Regions from separate parts of the Homo sapiens genome. Here all the other regions are linked to region 1. Evidence: fine-mapped expression QTL. A gene starts in region 1. Each other region holds a variant in brackets. All regions are shown on one strand. Distances are from middle to middle.

What was found. PIP is the estimated chance that this variant, and not a neighbour inherited with it, causes the effect.
Region 2: its variant is the best candidate, but not a certain one, in a credible set for the expression of DAB2IP in tibial nerve (GTEx, PIP 0.54).
Region 3: its variant is the best candidate, but not a certain one, in a credible set for the expression of DAB2IP in whole blood (TOPMed, PIP 0.84).

The regions. Positions count from the first base shown.
Region 1 is chr9:121,649,962-121,654,201 of GRCh38, reverse strand. DAB2IP (DAB2 interacting protein) reads right to left here and starts at 2,568. Exons shown (of 16, transcript NM_001395010.1): 1 at 2,303-2,568. The coding sequence starts at 2,426. RefSeq lists an enhancer at 3,991-4,240.
Region 2 is chr9:121,801,430-121,805,669 of GRCh38, reverse strand. No RefSeq gene overlaps it. Among named protein-coding and RNA genes, the nearest start is that of DAB2IP, 150 kb to the right of the region's middle. The variant A/G (reference allele first, on the strand shown) is at 2,129.
Region 3 is chr9:121,724,655-121,728,894 of GRCh38, reverse strand. The region is part of intron 3 of DAB2IP (DAB2 interacting protein); the gene reads right to left. Among named protein-coding and RNA genes, the nearest start is that of DAB2IP, 75 kb to the right of the region's middle. The variant A/TA (reference allele first, on the strand shown) is at 1,852.

The sequences.
Region 1 (4,240 bases):
CGCAGTCTGTTCATTCTGTCCAGAGAGAAGACAGTAGCTCACCCTCAGCTGCAGCCTTAGTCCCAGGCACTGGCTTCTGGCCCTCACATGACCCTGTCACTGCTAGCCCCATTGACCACACAAGGTCACTGAGGCTTGGAGAGGTAACTGGCTGTAGAATAGTTGTGTGCACAGCTGAGACTTGAACCCAGATCTGACTCAATTACTCCCTCTGCGAAGGGAAACCCTATCCATTTTGTGAGATCCCATCCAAATGTCACCTCCTCTGTGAAGCTCTCCCTGATCTCCCCAGATATAACTTCTGTTCAGAGACAGTCTCCTCCCCGCTCTGCAGGCCGTGAGCTCCTTCAAGCTGGGACACAAGCAGTGATCCTGTGTATGTGGGGTCTGGGAGCTGGGGCTCAGGTGACAGCCCCTGACACATTGATTATCCCCTGCCTGGTCAGCTGAGCAGGAGGTCAGCTGAACAGGAGCGAGACTCCCATTACAGTCAGGGATGGAACTGGGCTGAGGTGAGAAGAGGAAAAGGTCACACAGGGCATTTCTGAGGCAAAGGAGGGGCGGGTGGGTGAGGTGACGTGAGGTGGGTGCAGAAGGAGAGGCCCCAGGGTGGTCTGAACAGTACTGGGCATTTTCAAAGCTCCCATTTCTCAGTTTCTTCACTGAATCCTCCACATACGGCAGGTCCATTTTACAACCAGGAAAACTAAGCTCAGAAAGGGGAAATGACTTGCCCAAAGTCACAAAGCTTGAGCCCAGATTCCCGGTCTCCCAGACCAAGTCCAGGGGAAGGGAGTAAGTACAGAATTAACAGTACTAAGCCTTTCTCCAGGTCTTAGCAAGTACAGAATTAAATAGAAGGACAGAGATAGAAGAACCAAAACCTGAACCACTGAGATAAAGCCTTCCCCAGGTCTTTAGTACTCCCTCCAAGGAGTACTAAAGGCTTAGTACTCCCTCCAAGGAGTACTAAAGGCTTAGTACTCCCTCCAAGGAGTACTAAAGGCTTAGTACTCCCTCCAAGGAGTACTAAAGGCTTAGTACTGTTAATTCTGTACTTACTAAGTAACTTAGTACTGTTAATTCTGTACTTACTAAGACTTCAGGAAAGGCAGGAGTGGGGGGATTGCAGGCTTTGAGAGACCCTTGAGGACTGAACTACCAGCACACACCTGTGCACACACTTAGCCTCAGCTTGAACCCTTCTGTGCACAGGGAACTCACTACTTCCTGAGGAAGCCCTGGACTGCACAGTGCTACTCAGACCTGACTGTGGGAAAAGTCTTCCCCATTCTGGTGGAAGCAACCGAACACTACCTGCCTGCTTCATTTACCCTCACACCGACAAGAAAACTGAAGTTCAGAGGCAGCTCAGCCCAGGTCACACAACGGCAGCCTGCAGGGTGGGAATGTGGCCCCTCTTGGTCTACCAGATTCCCTGCATGGCATTTGTTGGCACAGGGCCCGGCTTCCCACTTTCAAGATAACCTGATGGTGTCAACTCGGCCCAGGTCCCTGCTAAGGCGCCGTCTTTCTCCTCCCTTCCACCCCACGGGCACCCTCGGTGGGCCTGAACCTCTGCCTAGGACTCCAGCCTCCCCAGAGCCCCTTTGAAGGCCTCCTCCTCCCAGGGGCTTCCCTCCCTCCTACTCAGCCAGGGAAGGAAGTCCCGGCCACCACCCGCCCAAACGCAGCCCCCGGGATCACACGCATTTCCAGCCGAGGATCCTGTTACTGGAAAAAGAAAATGCTGCTCGCACCTCCCCCTCCGTCTCGTCCTGCCTCCTGAGCTTGATGGAGAGAAACTTTGCAAAGGAGCTGGCGCCCACCCGCTCGAGGGGTCACGGTTCCTTCCCTGAGGTCCACCCACTTGTCCTAGCACCCAAGAGGTGGGGAGCCCGTTAAGTTCCTGGAAAGGGAAGAAAGAAGTCCGCGGCCTGGGCTGGGAAGGCAAGGTGTGGGAAAGCTCAGATCCACCCTGGGTTACTTTATTGCCCGGCTGCTGAGTAAACTGAGGCACAGTGGGGTAGGAGGTCTGATCTGAGATGCGGAGAAAGATTCCAGGCTCCCCTCTCCCTGTCCCTGGCTTAAGAGGAGACCCTAGAGCCTCGGCTTCCCCCGGCGAGAGGAGGACTAAGCAGAAGCTGGGGGAATGGGGGGTCCGGCAGACTCAGGAAGGGGCGGATGAGGAAACCCCCGGCAAATGGCTGGAAGGAGGATCCCGGTCCCTAGCATCCCAGGGCATCAGGTGGCTTAGTGGCCTTAGGAGGGTCTAGGGGTCAGGGGTCGGGGTGGCGCCTACCCCTGGCAGGCCGGGTCCGGCTGCGGGAGCGGCTCCTCTGTCGCTGCAGCCGGGGCCGCCTCAGCAGCCGGTAGTAGTAGGAGGACCTCCCGGTGCTCTTCCTGGCGCTGCCGCCCGCGGACATGCTGCCGCCCGCCGGGCACCGGGCCGGGCCTGGGCGCGCTCACACGGGCCCCATCGGCCGCTCCGGACAGCCCGGCGGGCGCCCACGCGTTCTCCCGCGCTCGCCCGAGCGGCCGCCGAGGCCCTGGCTGCCCCACAAAGTCGCTCAAACTCCTCCTCCGCCTCCTGCCCCCTCCCGCTCCCCGAGCAGCCGGCCCCGCGGCGGGGGCTGGGGACCCGGAGGCCGGGCTGGCACCGGCCCGGAAAGTCAGTGCGGGAGAAATCCCGGCCTGGAATCGGCGGGGCGAGGCGGCCCGGAGTTTCCCCGGGACCCCAGACGGGTCGTCCCGAGGGTTCTGGCTCCCACCCCCGCCCCCGAGGGTTCGACCGTCGACCTGAGGGCGCACCAGGCACCCAATCCCGCCAGCGCGGGTAGACGGTGCACACCTGCTTGTGCGCTCTCCGGAGCCCGGGGTAGGACGCATGCTTGGGGACGGTCACCTTCAATTAGGGTCCGTTCCTGCCCCAGGCTCGCTGGGCTGAGAAACGACCCTCACTGCTCCGCAGGCCCTGGCCCAGCCAGGTTGAAAGACTCCCCTGTGATGCAGGATACTTGCCTCTTCTTTACGTTTTAAAGGTTGTCCCGTCTGATACACGTATCATTTTTATGTAATTAAAATTACGGTGTCTGTTTCAAGCACTCAAAGCACTGAAGGCAGGGCAGAACAATCCCTACCCTACCGTAGGCACCAGAAACTCAGGGTGGCAGAAGGAAAGGTACCAACTCCCTCTATTGCATTGGCTGAAAAACTTTCTCCAAGTCACTCCTCAGCTCAAGAGCTTTCCGTGGCTCCCCAGAGCACAATGGCAATACGTCTAAACATCCTTGTTATTTGGACCCCAAATAATCTTGCCCCAACCAAAGTCCCCTCCAGCCTCACCTCTGCTCCCCCTAATTCTCACTTCTCTTTGCTGTGCTGCCAGCAGGGACTGCCTTCTTGGCTATTTTCTCCACCCGACCAAAGTCCACCCTTTCAGGACCCAGCTCCTCCACCCTTCCCTAACCATGGCCCACAGTGATCTCTCTCTCTCCCCGCCCCTTATCTCTTTAGCAATATTCGTCGTTTAAATTATTAAGACACCTGCCTGAGCTGCCTCCTTTGAAGTACAGAGGGGGAAACTGAGGCCTTGGCAAGGAGGTCTTGCCTCAGTCACATGGAAAGTGGCAGAGGCAAGTGGTCTTAGCCTGGGGCTCTCAACATTCAGACTTAGGGGTGGGGGGTGTGAGTCACCGCAAGTGCCTGAGGCCGGCTAGGGGATCTTCCTCCAGAACAGTGGGGAAGGTGGGGCCCTGGAGTGGGCGGGGCCGTCTGGGCAGAAATCCAGGCCGGGTTTTGCACCTCACAGGGGAAGCCCCCTCCCTAGCGCTCTCAGCCAGCGGGGAGGGTCCCTAGTCCTGCGGAGCCTGTCTCACAGCTGGAAGCCAGGCGCCTTCCCTGACCAGGGGGGAGGGGCAGGAGGGGTGTTACTCCAGCAAACTCAGTCTGAGGAGTCCAGAGCTATCAGCTGCCCTGGTCCCCTCTTCCCTGAATACTGGCCAATCCCACAGGAAGATGGAAAACCAGGGTGCCCAAGAGGACACCCTTAGCCTCCTTTGGGTTAGGCCAGGGGTGCCCAATCTTTTGGCTTCCCTGGGCCACACTGGAAGAAGAAGAATTGTCAGGCCACACATAAAATATACTCACACTAACCATAGCTGATGAGCTAAAACAAACAAACAAACAAAAAAACCACACACACAAAAAAACCTCATCATGCTTTAAGAAAGTTTATGAA
Region 2 (4,240 bases), 150 kb before region 1:
TGTTGCCAAAAATTATAGGATTTCATTTTTTTATGGCCGAATGGTGTTCCATTGTATATATGTATATGTATATATGTGTGTGTGTGTGTGTATATATATATACACACACCATATTTTCCTTATCCATTCATCTGTTGATGAGATTTCTAAGCAGCAGGTAAGCTCTTGTTATTAATTCCCACTTTCATTGCTCTGTGGTTAAGAAATATGGCCTTTCCTTTATTGAGCTTACCACAGGCCAAGCATCATGTTAGGTGATAATTATACTAGGTTGAATAAAATTTGAGCCCCACAGCCTAATAACAGAGAGCATAAATAAATCTACATTTACAATCCCAGGAATATAAGGATGGTTCAACATATGTAAATCAATGTAATATATTGTATCTTCAGAATGAAGGACAAAAACCATATAATCATTTCAATTGATGCTGAGAAATCATTTAATAAATTCAACATCCTTTCATGATAAAAACTCTCAAAAAACTGGGAACATACTCCAACACAATAGAAGTCATATATGACAGACCCACAGCTAGTATCATACTGAATGAGGAAAAACTGAAAGCCTTTCCTGTAAGATCTGGAACAAGACAAGGATGTCCACTGTCACCATTGTTATTCAACATAGCACTGGAAATCCTAGCCAGAGCAATAAGACAAGAGAAAGAAATAAAGAGCATCCAAACTGGAAAGGAAAAAGTCACATTATCCTTGTTTACAGATTATATGATTGTATATTTGAAAAAAACTAAGCAGTTCAAAAAACTATTAGAACTGATAAACAAATTCAGTAACATTGCAGGATACAAAATCAACATACAAAAATAAGTAGCATTTCTGTATGTCAACAGAACAGCCTCATAAAGAAATCAAGAAAGCAATCCCATTTACAACAGCTACAAATCAAAGAAAATACCACCAGTAATCCGATTTACAATGGCTACAAATCAAATAAAATACCATCAGAGAAATACAAATCAAAACTGCAATGATATATAATCTCACCCCAGTTTAAATGGCCTTCATCCAAAAGACAGGAAATAACAAATGCTGGCAAGGATGTGGAGAGAAAAGGGAACCCTCATACACTGTTGGTAGGAATGTAAATTAGTACAACCAGTATGGAGAACAGTAAGGAGGGTCCTCAGAAAGCTAAAAGTAGAACTATCATACGATGCAGCAATCCCACTGCTGGGTACGTACCCAAAAGAAAGGAAACAGGTATATCAAAGCAATATCTGCCCTCCCATGTTTATTGCAACATGGCTATTCACAATAGCCAGGATTTGGAATCAATCTAAGTGCCCATCAGCAGATGAATGGATAAAGAAAATGTGGTACATACACACAATGGAATACTATTCAGCCATAAAAAAGAATGAGATCCTGTCATTTGCAACAACATTGATGGAACTGGAGGTCATTATGTTAAATGAAATAAGCCAGGCACGGAAAGACAAACTTTGCATGTTCTCACTCATTTGTGGGAGCTAAGAGTTAAAACAGTTGAACTCATGAAGATAAAAAGTAGAATGACGATTAGCAGAGGCTGGGAAGGGTGTTGAGGGTGAGGGTGGACGGGGCAAGTGGGGATAATTAATGGGTACAAAAATATAGTTAGAAAGAATGAATAAGACCTAATATTTGATAGCGTAACAGGGTGACCACAGTTGACAGTAACTTTTTGTACATTTAAAAATAACTAGGCCTGGTGCAGTGGCTCACACCTGTAATCCTAGCACTTGGGGAGGCCGAGGTAGATGGATCACCTGAGGTCAGGAGTTCGAGATCAGCCTGGCCAACATGGTGAAACCCTGTCTCTACTAAAAATACTAAAATTAGCCGGGCGTGGTGGCATGTGCCTGTACTCCTAGCTACTCAGGAGGCTGAGGCAGAAGAATCTCTGGAAGCTGGGAGGCAAAAGCTGCAGTGAACCGAGATTGCGCCACTGCACTCCTGGGTGACAGAGCAGGATTCCGTCTTAAAACAAAACAAAACAAAACAAAACAAAACAAAACAAAAGACCCTAAACTAAAAGAGTATAATTGGAATGTTTGTAACACAAATAAGTGAGAAATGCTTGAAGTGATGGATACCCACCACCCCCAAAAAAAGTTTGCGATGC[A/G]ATGTGACATGCAGTGGCAGAGGGAACCCCAGCCCCTATATGTTCTTTAACAAATCTCATATATTTTTCTCTATTTAGGTTGATTCCTTTTGTGTTTCTATTACCTAAACATTCCTGGACCAAAAAATATAGATATTTGTTATTTTTATTTGCTTTTCTTGAATTATTACCATGAATGAGATATTCCCATTTATTTATTGTCCCTTTAATTTCCAATTATTTCTCTTTTGCCTTATTCTTGGATGCTTCAAGCCGATGTTCTAGAATGGATCACTGATTTGACTTTTCAGCACACACATTCTGTTGTCCACCATCAGCAATGACATTCTTTCCTTCCAAGTTCTTGTTTTCAGCCCGTTCCTTTCTCCTAGCAGCACACTCCTGTTTATTGAGGAAACATCACTTGAACCACTCCAGCATTTATTTAAGACCCATTAAGAGGGTTCTGCATCTCCGACATGCTCTGATGGGGAGCAAAGCAAGACTCACCATTGCCCTGTGTTGCAGGTTAGCGGGCTCATCTATTCCTGTAGGGTGCCCTGCTCGGTGCAGGGAGCAGGGAGCAGCCCCACCTCTCCCTCCTGTGGGTTGCTTTCTCCTCTGATGAGCATTTGCAGGTTCTTCCTGATTTGCCTGATGCAGGAGCTTGCTTCCCGGGGGTGCCTGTTAAACTTCAGATTCCATGGAATTGGAGGTACAGATGCAAACCCATGATTTGTAGAATGTGTATATGCACTTTTGTGTGCACGTGGATGTGTATATGCACATATATGTATTTATTTCCTAGTTCTGTCTGCTGACAAGGTCAAGAAGAAAAGCCATTCTACTAGCTCGCAGATCTTGGTTCTTAATACCATTACCCAGGGTTTCTCGGAGAAATGACTAATTTGAGAGCTTGGGCAGGGTAGGTACATTGTGAGCCTGGGACGTTTTGTTACACCAGAAAATAAGGAATGATCAAAAGCACTTTTGGGGGAAATGTCAGCAGCTTAAAGGGGCTGCCGGTGGCAAAATCTAGGACTATTTGAGCACCAAAATAATAAAGTAATGAAATATAAACCCTTAAAAATGGAAATTTCTGAATCTATACCAATAGTAAATAGATTTATCAATATGTGGGGGAGAAGGAGGACCTATGCTGACGAGAGAATTCTGAGAGTCAACCGGCGAAGTGGAGAGATTGTTAGAGTTGGAAAATCATCTTTTGCAACTATCCTAGTAAAGATGGGATCAATTAAGAATCATTCATGGTTGCTAAATCTAGGGGAACATTCTGATGAGGAACAGAATGTTTTCATGGTCTCAAAGTGTCTCCCCACAGACTGCTTATTAGTTGCAAAGAAGATCAAAAAACTCCAGTAATTATACAGTGAAGAAATTGGACAACGCCTTGATCGAGTGATCAAAATTAACATCACCAAGGAAGGACAGATGGCTGTCTTGTGCCTCCAGATGTGCTCCTCTGAGAAGGACTCAATACGCTCTATGCAGGATTTTGGCTAAGAATGAAGAACCAAAAACTAGTCCCAAGGAAACATCAGACAAATGCTTTTCTATTTTTGAAAAAGGTGGGTGTGCTTGGTCGTATTCTTCTCAAATGTCAATGCCATAAAAGATCACAAAAGGCTATGAAAATGTTCCAGATTAAAAGAGGCTAAAGAGATATGACAGCTAACTGCAGCCCCTGCCCCTAGGCTGCCTCCTGTACTACAGGGGAAAATTACTGAAAAAGGACATTATTGGTTCGACTCAGAAAATTGGAATGTGAATGTTGAGAGTAGATAAAAATGTATACCAATGTTAAATTGACTGAAGTTGATTATGTAAGAGAATATTCCTAATCTTAGTGAAAATATACTACTGAAGTGTTTAGGTTAGATAAAGGGCTATGATGTATGTAACTTAACTTCAGGCAGTTCAGAAAATAAATTGTGTGTGTATGTGTGTGCATGTGTGTGCGGAAAGAGGGAGACTGAGAATGATAAAGCTAAGGGGGTAAAAATATTAATAGATTACAGGTAAAAGGCACACGGTATTCCTGGTACCATTGATTTTAGCAACTTAGCTGTAAGTCAGAAATGATTTCCAAAGCAAAAGGCTTTTTAAAAACTT
Region 3 (4,240 bases), 75 kb before region 1:
GATGCTGCTTAAATACTGGAGAAGGGTGTTCTTTGAAGTGTGTTTAAATAACCCCTTCCCCTGGCTGTCCCCCCCTCCCCAAATCTCATTTACACTATTAATAACATTAGCAAACATTTTCTTCATAAAGCTAGATAGAATTCCACACTAGTGCATGTTGAAATCAAGAAGCCCCTGCCCAGCCCACCTGCAGTCATTCTAGAGCTCCTGGGCCAGCTGCAGGCCTCCCCACCCTCACTGGCTCCTCTTAAGTTGGGCACTAATGCCCCTCTCTGATACAAGGAGCTCTGGAGGGTTGGGTATGTATTCTTGGCATGGAGCAGGCCCTGTATCTGAGAACAGGATCTCAGTAGCATTAATAAGACCCGTGAGTTCCCTATTGGCAGGCATATCACAATGCCTACCTTACATCTGAGAAAACCCAGTCTTTGAGTTAAGGAACGGGCCCAAATTCACGCAACTAGCAAAAGCTGCAGTGGAACGGGACTCAAACTTGGATCAGACTCCTCCCTCTGGGGTCTGCTGTTCTCACTATGGCCTGAAACTGCAGTTCCCACAGACCTCTCTAACTGATGAGCCCACAGGGTGTTACTCCAAAACTGATCACAGGATGCCTCTTAGAACCAGGGGCATCAACAGACTGACCTGGGTTTTGAGTTGAAGAAACTGAGATTCAGAGAAGTACCATGAGTTGCCCAAGGTCCCAAGGGAAGAAAGGAGAACAAGGGCCTAGAACCCAGGGCCTCCTGCCCTGGGATCGCTGCTTTTGCATTCAGATCTTTCAAAACAATTCCATAATATTCTCCCCTATAATAGCTGGGTTGGTACTTTAACCATCCCCTGTATGCCCTGAGCCCAAAAAAGACCCAGGCAGACAACAGGTGCTTATGAAATGTTTGCTGAACTGGACTGTTTTCTTACAAAAAAAGACAACACTGAGCAGCTGGAACAATGAAGGCATGCAAAGGATGATGGGTGGTGGCTCAGGGACAAGGGAGAAGGCAGACAGCCCTGTGTGGGAGAAGGAGATGGAGGTGGGAGAGCCTGGCTACCCTCAGCTTGGGAAGGCTTCCTTCAAAGCATTTCCCTGCTGGATGCCTGCCCAAGAGAGAGGCAAGCAGCTGATTCTCGGCTTTGAGGGAAAAGGAAATACACAAGTGTTAACAGATACATTAGCTCCTCACCTGCCCCTGCAGTGGGGGCCCCCAACATTCCTTTTCTCACCATTTCTTTGGGCCAAGAAATTGAGGCTCAGAGAGATGAGGTCACAGAGTGGTGGAGAGGAGGGCCCAGTCTCTTTCTTGCTCCGCCAAACAGGCTCTCCTGTTGGGCCTTCCCATCACACCTCCTCACTCCTCTGATCCCTGGCTTTTTGAATCCTAAGGGAGCCTTGGCAATTATGGTGAAGACAGTTGCCCTCACCCTTGCCACACCCCCACTGCCATGCTAAGGCACGCTGGCGCCTCTATGTGTAGGCACTCTGCTAAGCCTCCCTCTTAAAACATATGTTAATCCTCACAAGTATCTTAGGAAATGGTTACACTTTTTGTCCCCATTTGACAGAGAGGGAAACTAAAACTCACTACAGAGCAAGTCACCTGCTAGAGGCCACAACGCTGGGAAGCAGCTTCACCGCGGGCAGTGCAGCTCAGGAGCCTGAACTGTTACATCAGTGTCTCTGCTTCAAGGTGGGGCTTGAGGGATCTCCAGATGGGGAATGGAGGTGAGGGGGTAACGAGTGTCCAGGCCAAGAGCAGGACACAAGGTATCACCCCTCAGAGTGCTTTATCCTGCTGGCACTCATTCAACTGTCCCCCTGCCTCCAGGCAAAGCTATACATAAGCCTGCAGT[A/TA]AGTCCAGCACAATATTTTTGAGAGACCACCCCACATCCCTACTCCTCTCCACCTCCCATCCCCAGCCCACCAGCATTCCAGGGTGGGGAACTGAGCTCCTGGCAGTTGGCTGAGCTCAGCTGGCCTTGGCACCAGTTCCTGAAGTACAGTATGAGGGAGTAGGGTGGGGAAAGAGACCCTTCCCCTTGAAGATAAAGGGGAATACAGGGCTGAGCCCTCAGTCGCCAGCTTCTTCCTCCCTGTCCCAGACACCTTCTGTAGAAAAAACCCAACTCAGTTTCTCCCCTTTCCTTTTATACTCTCACAAAGCAGAATACTTCCAACACCAGATGTGGTGGGGGCGGGAGGGGTTGTCCCCACACACCAAGCAGGCGATTAGTTGGGCAGCAGACACCAGCCCAGATGTCTTCTAATTTTGTTCCATTTTGACATTATCTACCTGGAGATAGCATCAGATCCACAGGTTGAGGGCTCAGTCCCCAAGACTATCCCCCCATCCTTCAGATGCCAATTGCAAGCCCCGTGTTGGTTTACCAGTGCTTCCCACCGACTGGCTATCAACTGGGTTTCCCATAAACCCCTCTTTGGGTTTGATTAATTTGCTGCAACAGCTCACAGAACTCAGGGAAATATTTACTTCTGTTTGCCAGTTTATTATAAAGGGATACCAATGAAAAGATGCATAGGGAGAGGTATGTGGGCAGGGGCGTGGAGCTTCCATGCCCTCCCTAGGAACCCTCCAGGAACCTCCAAGCATTCAGCTATCTGAAAGCTCCCCAAGCTTTGTCCTTTTGGGTTTTTATAAAAGCTTCATTTCATAGGCATGATTGATTAAAGCACTAGCCATTGGCGACTAACTTAACCTTCAGCCTCTCTCCCTGCCCCAGGGGCTGTGGGGTGGGCTGAAAGTTCTAACCCTCTAATCCTGCCTTGGTCTTTTCTGTGACCCCTTTCTGAAGCCACCTAGGGGCTGCCAGCCATCAGTCAACTCATTAGCAAATAAGTAGACATCACTTTAAAGAATCTAAGGATTTCAGGAGTCGTGTGCCAAGAAACCAAATACTGTATATATTTCCCAGTGTCACACCTTTCCACACCTACCCTTACACACAGCCAAGGACTTGCTTCTAAAATCGCTGATCTATCTAGGTCCCATCTCTTCTTAAAATCCTTCCCAGCTACTTTCAGGATCAAGTCCATACCCTGCTGCCTTCCTGCTACCTTCCCCTCTATTCCTTGCACTCTCCAGGCCCAACACATAGCCGCCCCGTGCCCAGTGATACCCAACTACCTGGCATGCCCAAAAGCCCTTTCCCTCCCTCAAGGGAACCTTCACCTTCACCCTGTGGCCCAACCACCAACTCAGTGGAGCCTTCCTTGAGCGCTGGTAGAGTCCTCACTCCCTTCTCTGTTCACGCACAGACCCTCTAAGGTGAGGTCTGTTGACTCATCTGCATTGTCAGACAGCAGGAGCCCTTGAGGGCAGAGATTGGCGTGACTGTCCCCTACCCCCTGCCCACAGCAGAGCGTACACAGAGGAAGCACACAGGAAACAATGGCTGGAATTTGCTGCACTGGGTACCCCAGGGTCAAAGAGGCCAAATCTAAGGGTGACCCTGGGCAGTGGAGTCTCTTGGAGATAGACCTGACCATAAGCCCCCGAGCCAGGTCAGACCAGGGCCCGCCAATTGGCTCTCCCAACCTGGCTCGTTAGGGGAATATGGACACTGCCAGGCCCAATCTTTCCATGGACGCCTGACAATGGCTGTGTCGAGAATCACAGGAGATGAAGTCATCGCTCCCAGAAATAGGCTGATTAAGAAGACGTGACGACAACGCAAACAGCAAGGCTGGACACACACACACATACACACGCGCGCACACACACTCACTCACCATGTGTTTCTCCACCCTGGGAAGCCGGGCCAGGCCTGAGCTCCTCTGGGAAACAGAAATCGTGCCAGGAACCAAAGCCAGCACAAGAAGCCTGGAGGCGGCTGGTCTTTGGGAGTGGCTGGTGCCGGGGGTGCTCTCCTCAGAGACTGTCTTGCAAGGGTTCCCTGTCCTGACCCTCACTGAAGTCCCCGACCTGCCCCTGGCCCTCTCAGACCCTCATGGTTCACCCCCTCCTTGGCCTCACCCCTCAATCCCCAGGGTAAAATCCTACCCACCTTTTTGGGCCCCCTCCCATTCCTGTCCATCCTAGATTCTGGGGAGGTGGGAGTGTCTACTGGCTGAGACAGGGCTCAGAGGCCACAGACACTGGGCTAAAATCCTGGTTCTGTCCCGCTGCAGCTGTATGACATTGGGCTAGTCAATCCACCTCTTCTTTGAGTCTAGTTTCCCCATCTGTAAAATGTAGACAGCAATGTGTCCACATTATGGGGT